Regions from separate parts of the Homo sapiens genome. Here region 2 is linked to region 1. The links come from fine-mapping of genetic effects on gene expression. A gene starts in region 1. The other region holds a variant in brackets. All regions are shown on one strand. Distances are from middle to middle.

Evidence for each region. PIP is the estimated chance that this variant, and not a neighbour inherited with it, causes the effect.
Region 2: its variant is the best candidate, but not a certain one, in a credible set for the expression of FAM153A in whole blood (TOPMed, PIP 0.65).

What each region holds. Positions count from the first base shown.
Region 1 is chr5:177,779,977-177,785,347 of GRCh38, reverse strand. FAM153A (family with sequence similarity 153 member A) reads left to right here and starts at 2,449. Exons shown (of 23, transcript NM_001413826.1): 1 at 2,449-2,605; 2 at 4,844-4,899.
Region 2 is chr5:177,500,042-177,505,412 of GRCh38, reverse strand. It overlaps DOK3 (docking protein 3), which reads left to right. Exons shown (of 6, transcript NM_001308236.3): 4 at 303-402; 5 at 498-670; 6 at 753-3,509. The coding sequence ends at 1,430. Among named protein-coding and RNA genes, the nearest start is that of PDLIM7, 5.1 kb to the right of the region's middle. RefSeq lists enhancers at 954-1,905, 1,906-2,859, 3,359-3,408, 3,429-3,498, 3,509-3,558 and 1 more. The variant C/T (reference allele first, on the strand shown) is at 2,279.

The DNA of each region.
Region 1 (5,371 bases):
AGGATGGTTTCGATCTCCTGACCTCGTGATCCACCCGCCTCGGCCTCCCAAAGTGCTGGGATTACAGGCGTGAGCCACCGCGCCTGGCAAGGGACTTTGGTCTTTCTTGCTTGGGGCTGGGATGAGTGTGTACTTGTGAGAAGAAGGAGGCACAAGGCAGATTGGGTGGCCACAGCTGTAACCTGGAGCCACAGAGCAGGCTTCTGTTACACACTATTCTTCTTTTCTTCACTTTAACAGAACCATCCCTTGAGGTTTAGCTGGGGGCACCTGGCTGCCCAGCTACAGACTAGATTTTCCAGACTAATTTATATCAATTTTCTTTATTCCTTTAAAAGTTGTTTATTTATTGCACTTACATACTAAGATACCATTCTCAAAGGACCACGAAAGCAGAAATGGTTAATATATGAAGCTGTCTATAGGCATGATAGAATAAAAAGTTTAAAAATTATTTGGGTCAGGCTTAAATAACTTTAACAGGTTAAAAAAAGTGTTTGACAATATTCAACAAATAATTCTTCACCTAATTTCTTATTGAAGCAATCACCTTAATATTCATTGGCCTTGATAAATGTGAACACTGGTCATATTTATGTAAATAATGGTCATGTGGCTTTCTTGGCATATCTAAATTCATGTTAGATCTGGCTTAACCTGTGCTTATGTATGTATATGTTACAGTTATGTACATTAAATGTGTGTGTAAGAGTTGGAATTATTTGAAAGATAGCAAAATTTTAACTAGAAAAAATAAGTTAATATCTAATAATAGTTGACTTGTTGATTAAAATAAGTAGTTATTATGAAAGAGAAAAAAGGTGATTTCAAATTGATTCAGAAGAACTGGCCTAGCAACTAAGATTGTATGCTTTCCTTTTTTTTTAAAAAAAAAAAGAACGGATATAATGTTATGTGACAATTAAATACAGAAATTACAAAACTAGTTAAATTGATGTTGCCATTAAAGCAACATTAAATAGTTTTGGGGGAGAAGAAAGAAGCCGAGAAGATGGTATCTGTGCAGTTAAGATGGTCATGTCATTTGATACATGTAAACAGAAAGCAGCCTGAGGCCCACACCTGCACCATGCTGAAAGAGCTGACCAGCGTTATATGTTCAGTCCTAGATGAAATGCTGCATTTGTTTTTTAAACACTGGTATGCATTGTTTTAAAAATGTATAAAATAACAGTGAAAAGTTAAAGAATCGTAAGAATGTAGCTAAAGGTAAAAAAAATTTGCAAAGCCATAATTTTTATGATGAAACAATATATTTTTTATCTTTTACGTATAATGTTTTAATGCTTTTTTAGCCCAATGAAATGTGGAAGTGTTTTGTGATTTTTATCTTACTATAGTGATTGTTTTATAAACAAAGAAAAAATTAATTCAGGATTGCAGATATGGTAAACTATTAAAATAGTTTGGGTATTAAAATATGAAATAATTGGGTATTAATTCAAAATCCAAGAGTTGCCATTGAACAAACCTGTAGGCATAGGTAAGTGCTGAGGTGAAAGTGCCAACCAAAGCCGTTAGATTGAACATTTATGCCTGGAGGGAATCAGTAGAGGAACTGGCTGTGGACCTTCACCTCTGCATCCCCTTTGCTTTCTGCTGTAGCTGGGTATCACAAAAACAACAACAAAAGCCACTTATTTCTTAAAGACAGAGAAAGGATAGTTCCTTCCATTTAGGCATTCCTAAATTGCCTCCCCGGTGGCCCCTGCGCTCTTGGAGGAGGTCAAGGCAGAGCAGACCCTCAGGTGGGGGAGCGATGCACTTGACCCTGAGGACATCAGGTACCAGGCCCACTAGCCCCCGCAGGCGCGGAGCTGCGGCTGCAGCCACCAGCCTAGACGTGGCGCGCCCGCAGCAAGTGGCTGGACACCGCAGACCAGGCCCGCGTCCCCAGCAGCGCGGATCCCGGGGCCAGCCGCCCAGGCAGCAAAGTCAGGCGGTCGGCTTCGCCAGCAGCCGATGAGTCTCATCCTGTGGATTGCCCAGCGCCAGGGATCAGGATCCGGAGAGGTGTCCAGGAGGAGCAGACCCTCAGACCAGGTAGGCTGTGCACTCAGTGACCCTGACGCCATCCAAGGGAAGCTCCGCCATCCCGCGCCAGTGCCAGAGCTGCAACTGCAAACTGCGCGTCCTGGCACGAGCAGCGGTGGGGGCGGGTGGGGGAAGGAGCGAGTGACTCTCCAGGCGTCTTCCGCTACCTGACACCAGCCAGGCAGCCCCCAGGGCCAGAGCGTCAGCGCCGAAGCCAGGCTCATCCGGGAAGCCACTCCGGTGGCCGCGGGGTGCCCATGCCAGCACCAGATCTCTCTTCGGAAGGAGGAGCGGGGCGGGCTACACGGCCAGGCGGGCCCTCCCCTTAAGGCGGGGTGGGCCGCGCGCCTGCGATTTTCCGTCCGTGGTCCTGGGGCAGCCCTGGCCAGCCCAGGAGAACCCGCGAGCCCAGCGGCGCCTGCACCTGCGGCTTCCGGGAGCCGGGCGGCTTTGCGAGGCTCACTAGGTCTGAGAGGTCGGAGGCCGCCAGTGTCGCTGCTGAAGGGTGGACCAGGCGGGATCGCGGATTCTGGGCTAGATCGCAGACTTGGTATCGCGGATTGGGATTTGGATCGGGGATTTTGAGTTGGATCACGGATTGGGGGTTGGATCACGGATTGGGGTTTGGATCGCGGATTGGGGGTTGGATAGGGGATTTGGAGTTGGATTGGGGATTTGGGGCTGGGTGTGGGGCGAGGGGGAGTGAAAAGGTGACACGGAGCTGCCGCGGCTCAGGAGCCAGTGGTTGGGGGTCTGAGAAGAACTCACCACCTTGAAGAAGTTCTTCGGCTTTGGGAGCCGCAGGGGCCGGCGGTCCGGGGCTCCCTAGGCCACGTCTACAGGGGTTCGGGGTACCGAATCGGAAGATCCACAGGGCGCTGTCAAGGGCGAAGCCGCGGAAGTGGAGCGCTGCCTGGCGCGCAGGAGCAGAGACCTGGAAGCCGGGGACAGGCAGCACAGGCAGTGGGGTGGGGGCTCAGCCCAGGGTGGGAGGGGGTCCCCAGGCCCGGCTTCCCCGCAGCCCCTGGGATGGGGCCTCAGAGGGCACCCTCAGAGGGGTGGTGCCAAACGGAGCCTCAGCTGCTCTGCATCCCCCATAATTCCCCAGCTGGAGCGCTTGGTGGAGAATGTGAGTGATTTAACTCACCAAGCTAAGCATACACAGTGTTATTTTTAACCTACACGTTTAAAACATGGTGTTATATACATTATAGGAGGTGCCTAATGAGAGAACTCATTCCTCTATCAAAAAATACCGTGAGTCGGCCGGGCGCGGTGGCTCAGGCCTGTAATCCCAGCACTTTGGGAGGCCGAGGCGGGCGGATCACCAGGTCAAGAGATCGAGACCATCCTGGCTAACACGGTGAAACCCCGTCTCTACTAAAAATACAAAAAAAAAAAAAAAAATTAGCCGGGCGTGGTGGCGGGCGCCTGTAGTCCCAGCTACTCGGGAGGCTGAGGCAGGAGAATGGCGTGAACCCGGGAGGCGCAGCTTGCAGTGAGCCGAGATGGCGCCACTGCACTCCAGCCTGGGCGACAGAGCGAGACTCCGTCTCCAAAAAAGAAAAACAAACAAACAAACAAAAAACCGTGAGTCATTTTCAGTAGCGAAAAGCTCTCACCTAAAACTGTCCGTTTTACATCCGTATCCACCTGTGTAGATCGGTTCTTTACTGAAGGTTCTTAGAAGGAAACTTGGAAGTGGGAGGTGGGTTCTGTGTTCCTGAATGGGAAGACACATTTTTCTCAAAATGTGAGCTCTTTCTGTGATTATCAATTTTACATAAGCCGAATGAAAAAATCAAGGTTTTAACATTTTTGCATGACACCTACTGTCTTTTACTATTGTAATGACATTTGTAAAAATTTTAGGGCTGGGCGCGGTGGCTCAGGCCTGTAATCCCAGCACTTTGGGAGGCCGAGGTGGGCGGATCACGAGGTCAGGAGATTGAGATTGAGACCATCCTGGCAAACACGGTGAAACCCTGTCTGTACTAAAAATACAAAAAAAAAAAAAAAAAAAAAAAATAGCCGGGCGTGGTGGTGGGCGCCCATAGTCCCAGCTACTCCGGAGGCTGAGGCAGGAGAATGCTGTGAACCCGGGAGGGGGAGCTTGCAGTGAGCCGCCATCCAGAAGTGCTGGGATTACAGGTGTGAGCCACCGCGCCCGGCCTGAAAAGTGCATCTTCATTTTACAGGGAATTCTTTCAAATCAAATAATCAAAAACTGTAAAAGGGGGCAAAGTACTTTTTTGCAGATCTACAAGTTTCTTATGTAAATAGGAAAAAAAGCCTTTGCTTTTCTGGTATAAGAATTTAAATTAAAAGAGGAATGAAACTGTTTTCTATCCACAATGTGTGAGGATGTTTTTTATACTGCTGCCTGAAGTTTAAGTTGCTGATTACTTTTTAAATAGATAATTTGGTGGTAAGTACTATATTTTAAAAATGCGTATGCCCGTTACCCTTCAATTCCATTATACTAAAATACCCTTGGGAAATAGAGATACATGCACTTTGTTTTTCACAGCACTTATTTTAAAAAGAACCCATAGAATGGATCTTATAAGTAAATTTCAGTTGCATCCATAGGATGCAATAATATGTGACCATCAAAGGTGACAATAGATATAGAAGTACGTTGATGTGCGAAGATGTATTTTGTTTTAGCCAGCGAGGAAAAAAGAATCAGTTTGATTACACATTTACCAAACATTAAGAATTTAATATGGTAACTTTTATTTCAGTATTAAAATAGCAATTTTATTTATTACTTTTTTATATACAGAATTCGACACCAAATTTTGGAACTTAAAAAGAAGATTCTTAAAACTTACAATCCAGGTAAGACTTCTGATAGTGAATTTCTCATTTCTCATGGTGGTCCTACTCTTGGTTTAAAAAAATTAAGATGTAAGATTAAGGTAGTTTTGAAGGAAAAGAAAAGTTTAAAAAGATGTGTAAATTGCATGTATATATACATATATACATACATGTAAATTAGTTTCTTATATTTAACTTCTTTAGTTTGGAATTAAGAGTTATTTAAGAAGGTAGTTGTAGCTGATTTATAATCTCAAACAGTATTATCTGAAAAAAAATCATTTACTTAATTATGATCCCGAAAATCCTATATAATATTTATGTTTTCTCTATAGTCACATTGTAACAAATTGGACTTGTTATACATATGGATCTTCTAGTTCATTTTTGTAATAAGTTGTTTATTTTTATAATAAATTGTTTATATTTAGTAAATACATAATTACACTTGACCCATGAATAATGTGGGGGTTAGGGGCTCTGATTCCAGTGC
Region 2 (5,371 bases), 280 kb after region 1:
AGAAGCTGGCCCAGCCAAGCCCAGGGGCTGCAAGGGACATCCTTTTGTGTCCCCAGTGATCTGCAGCTCTCAGACACCCTCAAGCACAGTGCCTCTTGCCCAGCCCAGCACTCTCAGTGGGGAGCCAGGTGGGAGAACAGGCTCGGAAGGGGACCTAGGCTTATGCAGCGAGCCGGGCAAAGCTGGAACTGGAGCCCAGGCCCCTGGATGCCCCCTGGCTTGTGGAGTTCTGGGATACTGAGGGGAGGGGACAGGGCATGGGAGTGCGGTGCTCTCACCTTTGACTTGAACTCATTCCCCAGGGGACAGGGGAGGCCTCCTCAGGATCCACAGATGCCCAGTCTCCCAAGAGGGGCCTGGTCCCCATGGAGGAAAACTCCATCTACTCCTCCTGGCAGGAAGGTAAGTTGGAGGACGTGCAAGGGCAGCCTCAGCCCCCCACACCCAGGGCTGGGTCTTTTTGGGACTGACGGAGCTGTCCTGGCCACCTGCCACAGTGGGCGAGTTTCCCGTGGTGGTGCAGAGGACTGAGGCCGCCACCCGCTGCCAGCTGAAGGGGCCGGCCCTGCTGGTGCTGGGCCCAGACGCCATCCAGCTGAGGGAGGCCAAGGGCACCCAGGCCCTCTACAGCTGGCCCTACCACTTCCTGCGCAAGTTCGGCTCCGACAAGGTGAGGTGCAGGGGTGGGAAAGGGTGAGGGGCTGACACCCTGGACCCTCCTGCTAATCCCCACCCGTGTGCCCTGTGCCCAGGGCGTGTTCTCCTTTGAGGCCGGCCGTCGCTGCCACTCGGGTGAGGGCCTCTTTGCCTTCAGCACCCCCTGTGCCCCTGACCTGTGCAGGGCTGTGGCCGGGGCCATCGCCCGCCAGCGGGAGCGGCTGCCAGAGCTGACCAGGCCCCAGCCCTGCCCCCTGCCACGGGCCACCTCTCTGCCCTCCCTGGACACCCCCGGAGAGCTTCGGGAGATGCCACCAGGACCTGAGCCACCCACGTCCAGGAAAATGCACCTGGCCGAGCCCGGACCCCAGAGCCTGCCGCTACTGCTAGGCCCGGAGCCCAACGATCTGGCGTCCGGGCTCTACGCTTCAGTGTGCAAGCGTGCCAGTGGGCCCCCAGGCAATGAGCACCTCTATGAGAACCTGTGTGTGCTGGAGGCCAGCCCCACGCTGCACGGTGGGGAACCTGAGCCGCACGAGGGCCCCGGCAGCCGCAGCCCCACAACCAGTCCCATCTACCACAACGGCCAGGACTTGAGCTGGCCCGGCCCGGCCAACGACAGTACCCTGGAGGCCCAGTACCGGCGGCTGCTGGAGCTGGATCAGGTGGAGGGCACAGGCCGCCCTGACCCTCAGGCAGGTTTCAAGGCCAAGCTGGTGACCCTGCTGAGTCGTGAGCGGAGGAAGGGCCCAGCCCCTTGTGACCGGCCCTGAACGCCCAGCAGAGTGGTGGCCAGAGGGGAGAGGTGCTCCCCCTGGGACAGGAGGGTGGGCTGGTGGGCAAACATTGGGCCCATGCAGACACACGCCTGTGTCCACCCTGGCCTGCAGGAACAAGGCAGGCCGCCTGTGGAGGACCTCAGCCCTGCCCTGCCCTCCTCATGAATAGTGTGCAGACTCACAGATAATAAAGCTCAGAGCAGCTCCCGGCAGGGGCACTCACGGCACACGCCCCTGCCCACGTTCATTGCGGCCAACACAAGCACCCTGTGCCGGTTCCAGGGGCACAGGTGACCTGGGCCTTACCTGCCACCCGTGGGCTCAAACCCACTGCAGCAGACAGACGGGATGGAAATCATTAGGACTCCATGTTGCTCTGCACGGCCGAGTGACACGAAGAGGCAGGCGGAGGGAGCTGTGAGGCTTACTTGTCAGACTCAGGAAGGAGCAACATGAGGGCCCAACTGGAGACCCGGAGGCCCGAGCTGGGAGGAGGCAGTGGGGGCGGGGTGCAGGTGGAAGGGATTTCAGAGACACCCTCGTCCAAAACACTTGTTCCCTGCTGAAACTCCAACAATTTGCAGATACTTCTGGGAACCCCAGGCGTCAGTCTCCTCATCTGTAAAGGAGAGAGAACCGATGACGTATCAGGCATAATCCTTGATGAGAGTTTGCTGCGTGCCTACTCAGTGCCAGGCGCTGGGGGACACAGCCGTGTTCAGGACAGCCTTGGTCCTGTTCTCCGGGAGCCGACATTCCAGGGGGAGAGAAGTTTCCTGAAGACTTCCATGCTGCGTTCCCTCCTCTGCTCCTGCTCCTGGCGCCATCCTAGGAGCCAGCCA[C/T]GCACGCAAGCGTCATGCCTCCAGGGCTCTGACTGCCCAGCCCCTCACCGCAACTCCACCTCAGCTGCACACACCCTTGGCACATCCTGAACCTCATTTTCATGACGGACACACAATTTTTGCTCTCTCCTGTCCAAGCCTCATCCTCTGGCCGCCACCTCCTTCCAGCTCACTTCCTTTAGTGCGGCCAGTACCGCCCCTGCCTAGGCATGTCGACCTGCAGGGACCCTTTTCTGGCTCTTCGAGGCCTCTGCCCACCATCCCCTCTTTGTTCTCCATAGTCCCTTCCCCCTGTTCTCTCTCGTTTCATCTTACTGGTCTGGCAAAGTCCCCGGCCTTGGGCGAGCCCAGACCTCCTCAGTGCCTGCACACAGCTGCCCACAGCCAGAGAAATCCATTTAAGCAGACTGCCTGCATCCTTCTTAACAGTGCAAGGCAGGCACTCCCTGCCACAAGAGACCCTGTTCCCTAGTAGGGCAGCTTTTCTCCTCCCCAGAACCTCCTGTCTATCCCCACCCAATGTCTCCTCACAGGCATATTGGGGAAACAGGTCGGGCTCTCCCACCGTATCTGCAAGTGTACTGGCATCCATCTGTCTTCTTCCTACCCCTACAGTAGAAACAGTGTCTGTCCCCAGCTGTGCTCTGATCCCGGCTCCTTTCACCTCAGAGCTTGGAAAATTGAGCTGTCCCCACTCTCTCCTGCGCCCATTCATCCTACCAGCAGCTTTTCCAGCCACACGCAAACATGCTCTGTAATTTCACATTTTAAACCTTCCCTTGACCTCACATTCCTCTTCGGCCACCTCTGTTTCTCTGTTCCTCTTCACAGCAAAAACTGTTCAAAAGAGTTGTTGATTACTTTCATTTCCACTTTCTCACCCCCATTCTCCCCTCAATTAACTCTCCTTCATCCCCATGATGCCATTATGTGGCTTTTATTAGAGTCACCAACCTTATTCTCCAAAACAAAAGCAACAAGGACTTTGACTTCTCAGCAGCACTCGGCTCTGGTTCTTGAAACACCCCCGTTACTTGCTATTCCTCCTACCTCATAACAATCTCCTTCCCAGCCTCTACTGCTGCCTTCTCTGAGTTCTTCCCAGGGTCCTAGGCTCAGATGTAGTGTAGCTCAACCCTGCTACACAAAGAATCTCCTGAAAGCCTGTAAAAATGTCCATGCATGTTCTGTGAGTGATCTACCAAGAAAATAAAAAATTTTAAAAATCAAATGCCCATGCCTGGGCCCACACGCAGGGGCTCTGATTTCATCAGTCTGGTAGGTGGGTTCTGGGCATCCACGCTCACTGGATTTCCGGATGATTGTAGTATGCAGCCTAGGCTGGGAACCACTGGCCTCAGCAAGCCAGTCATTCTCCAGGTGTCACAGACCCTCTAGGTGCTAATGACCCCGAAGGTCTGTCTTCAGTGCACACCTCCCCCTGAGCTCCAGATTTAGGAATCCCACTGCACACGAGACATCTGGATGTGGAAAAGACATCTCCAGATCCCATGGGTGAAAGGGGGTTGGGGGAATGGAGACTCTGGTGTTCTTCCAGGATGTGTGTGGACACAGAATGCAAAGCCTGGAGGGATGCTAGAGCCATAGGGAGGAAGATTTTGGCTCACTTATTCATGCAAGCACTTCCTGATGGGTAAGGTCTTAGAGCAAGCTGAGGCCAAGAGGCGGGCAGTCGAGGTGCTGCTGCAGGCACCCCCACTCCCTACAGTGGCAAGCCCAAGCCCAGCCCTTGGCAGCTCAAATCCCAGGACACGCTGAAGGTCACCCAGAGAGTCAGGGGCATGGCTAGAACCAGAACCCAGGACTCTGGGGACCCAGCATGGCATCCTTTCCTTCATTACAAATCTGAGCTGCTTTGTTTCCTAGGGATTTCTGTGATATTCCAAGGGGACTGTGGGAAAGAAAGTCCTTGGAAACCACCAGGACGCTAGAGGCCTGGCCTGGAGCCTCAGGAGTCTCGGCCACCAGAGGGCGCTGGGTCCTTGTCCAGGTCCAGTTGCTACGCAGGGGCTGCCTGTGCTGGGAGGCTCCCCAGGGGACACAGACCAGAGCCTTGCACCAGCCCAAGGAATGGGAGCCTGGGGTCCTCTCTGCTGGAGGACTGCCAGGACCCCCAGGCTGCCGCCTCTTCCTTTGCTCATTTGCTGTTTCACTTTGTCAATCCTTCCTTTCTTCGTGTGTTCATTCACATCCACTGTGTGCTGGCCCTGGGGAAATGTTAGATAAGACACATTAGCTGTGTGTCTTCATTGTCCTAACAAAGAACACACCCTGGAAAGAGCACCGCAGAGAGTCCCCATTCCCCCATCTCCCTCCACACATGGAATCTGGAGATGCCTTTTCCACATCCAGATGTCTCTGGTGCTGTGGGATTCTTAAATAAACAAACATTTCATACAGAATGTGAGATGATGGAGATGCTATGGGGAAAAATAAAGCAGAGGGAGGGCCTAGTGTGTGATGCGGGTGAGGCATCCAGGGATTGCTGTTTCAGCTGTGATCAGGAAAGGCCCTGGGAGGAGGCCACATCTGAGCAGAGACCTAAATAAAGTTGGAAACCTGTTGCTGAGATATCTGGAGAAGTGTTTCAAGGGCCGGGCACCGGGCATGGTGGCTCACGCCTGTAATCCCAGCACTTTGGGAGGCCAAGGCAGGTGGATCGCTGGAGGTCAGGAGTTTGAGAGCAGCCTGACCAACATGGAGAAACCCCATCTCTACTAAACATATAAAAATTATCCGGGCATGGTGGTTCATGCCTGTAGTCCCAGCTACTCGGGAGGTTGAGGCAGGAGAATCACTTGAACGTGGGAGGCAGAGGTTGCAGCAAGCCGAGATCACACCACTGCACTCCAGCCTGGATGACAGAGCGAGACTCCGTCTCAAAAAAAAAAAAGAAAAGAAAAAAGAAAAAAAAAGAAAAGTGTTTCAAGCAGGGGAACTGGCAAGTGGAGAGGCCCTGAGGCAGAAATATGCTTGGCCTGCTGGAGGAAATGTGAGTGAGGAGGTCAGGGTGGCTGGAGTGGAGGGAGCGAGTGGTAGGAGTCAGACCCAGTTTATTCATATTCTGTAGGT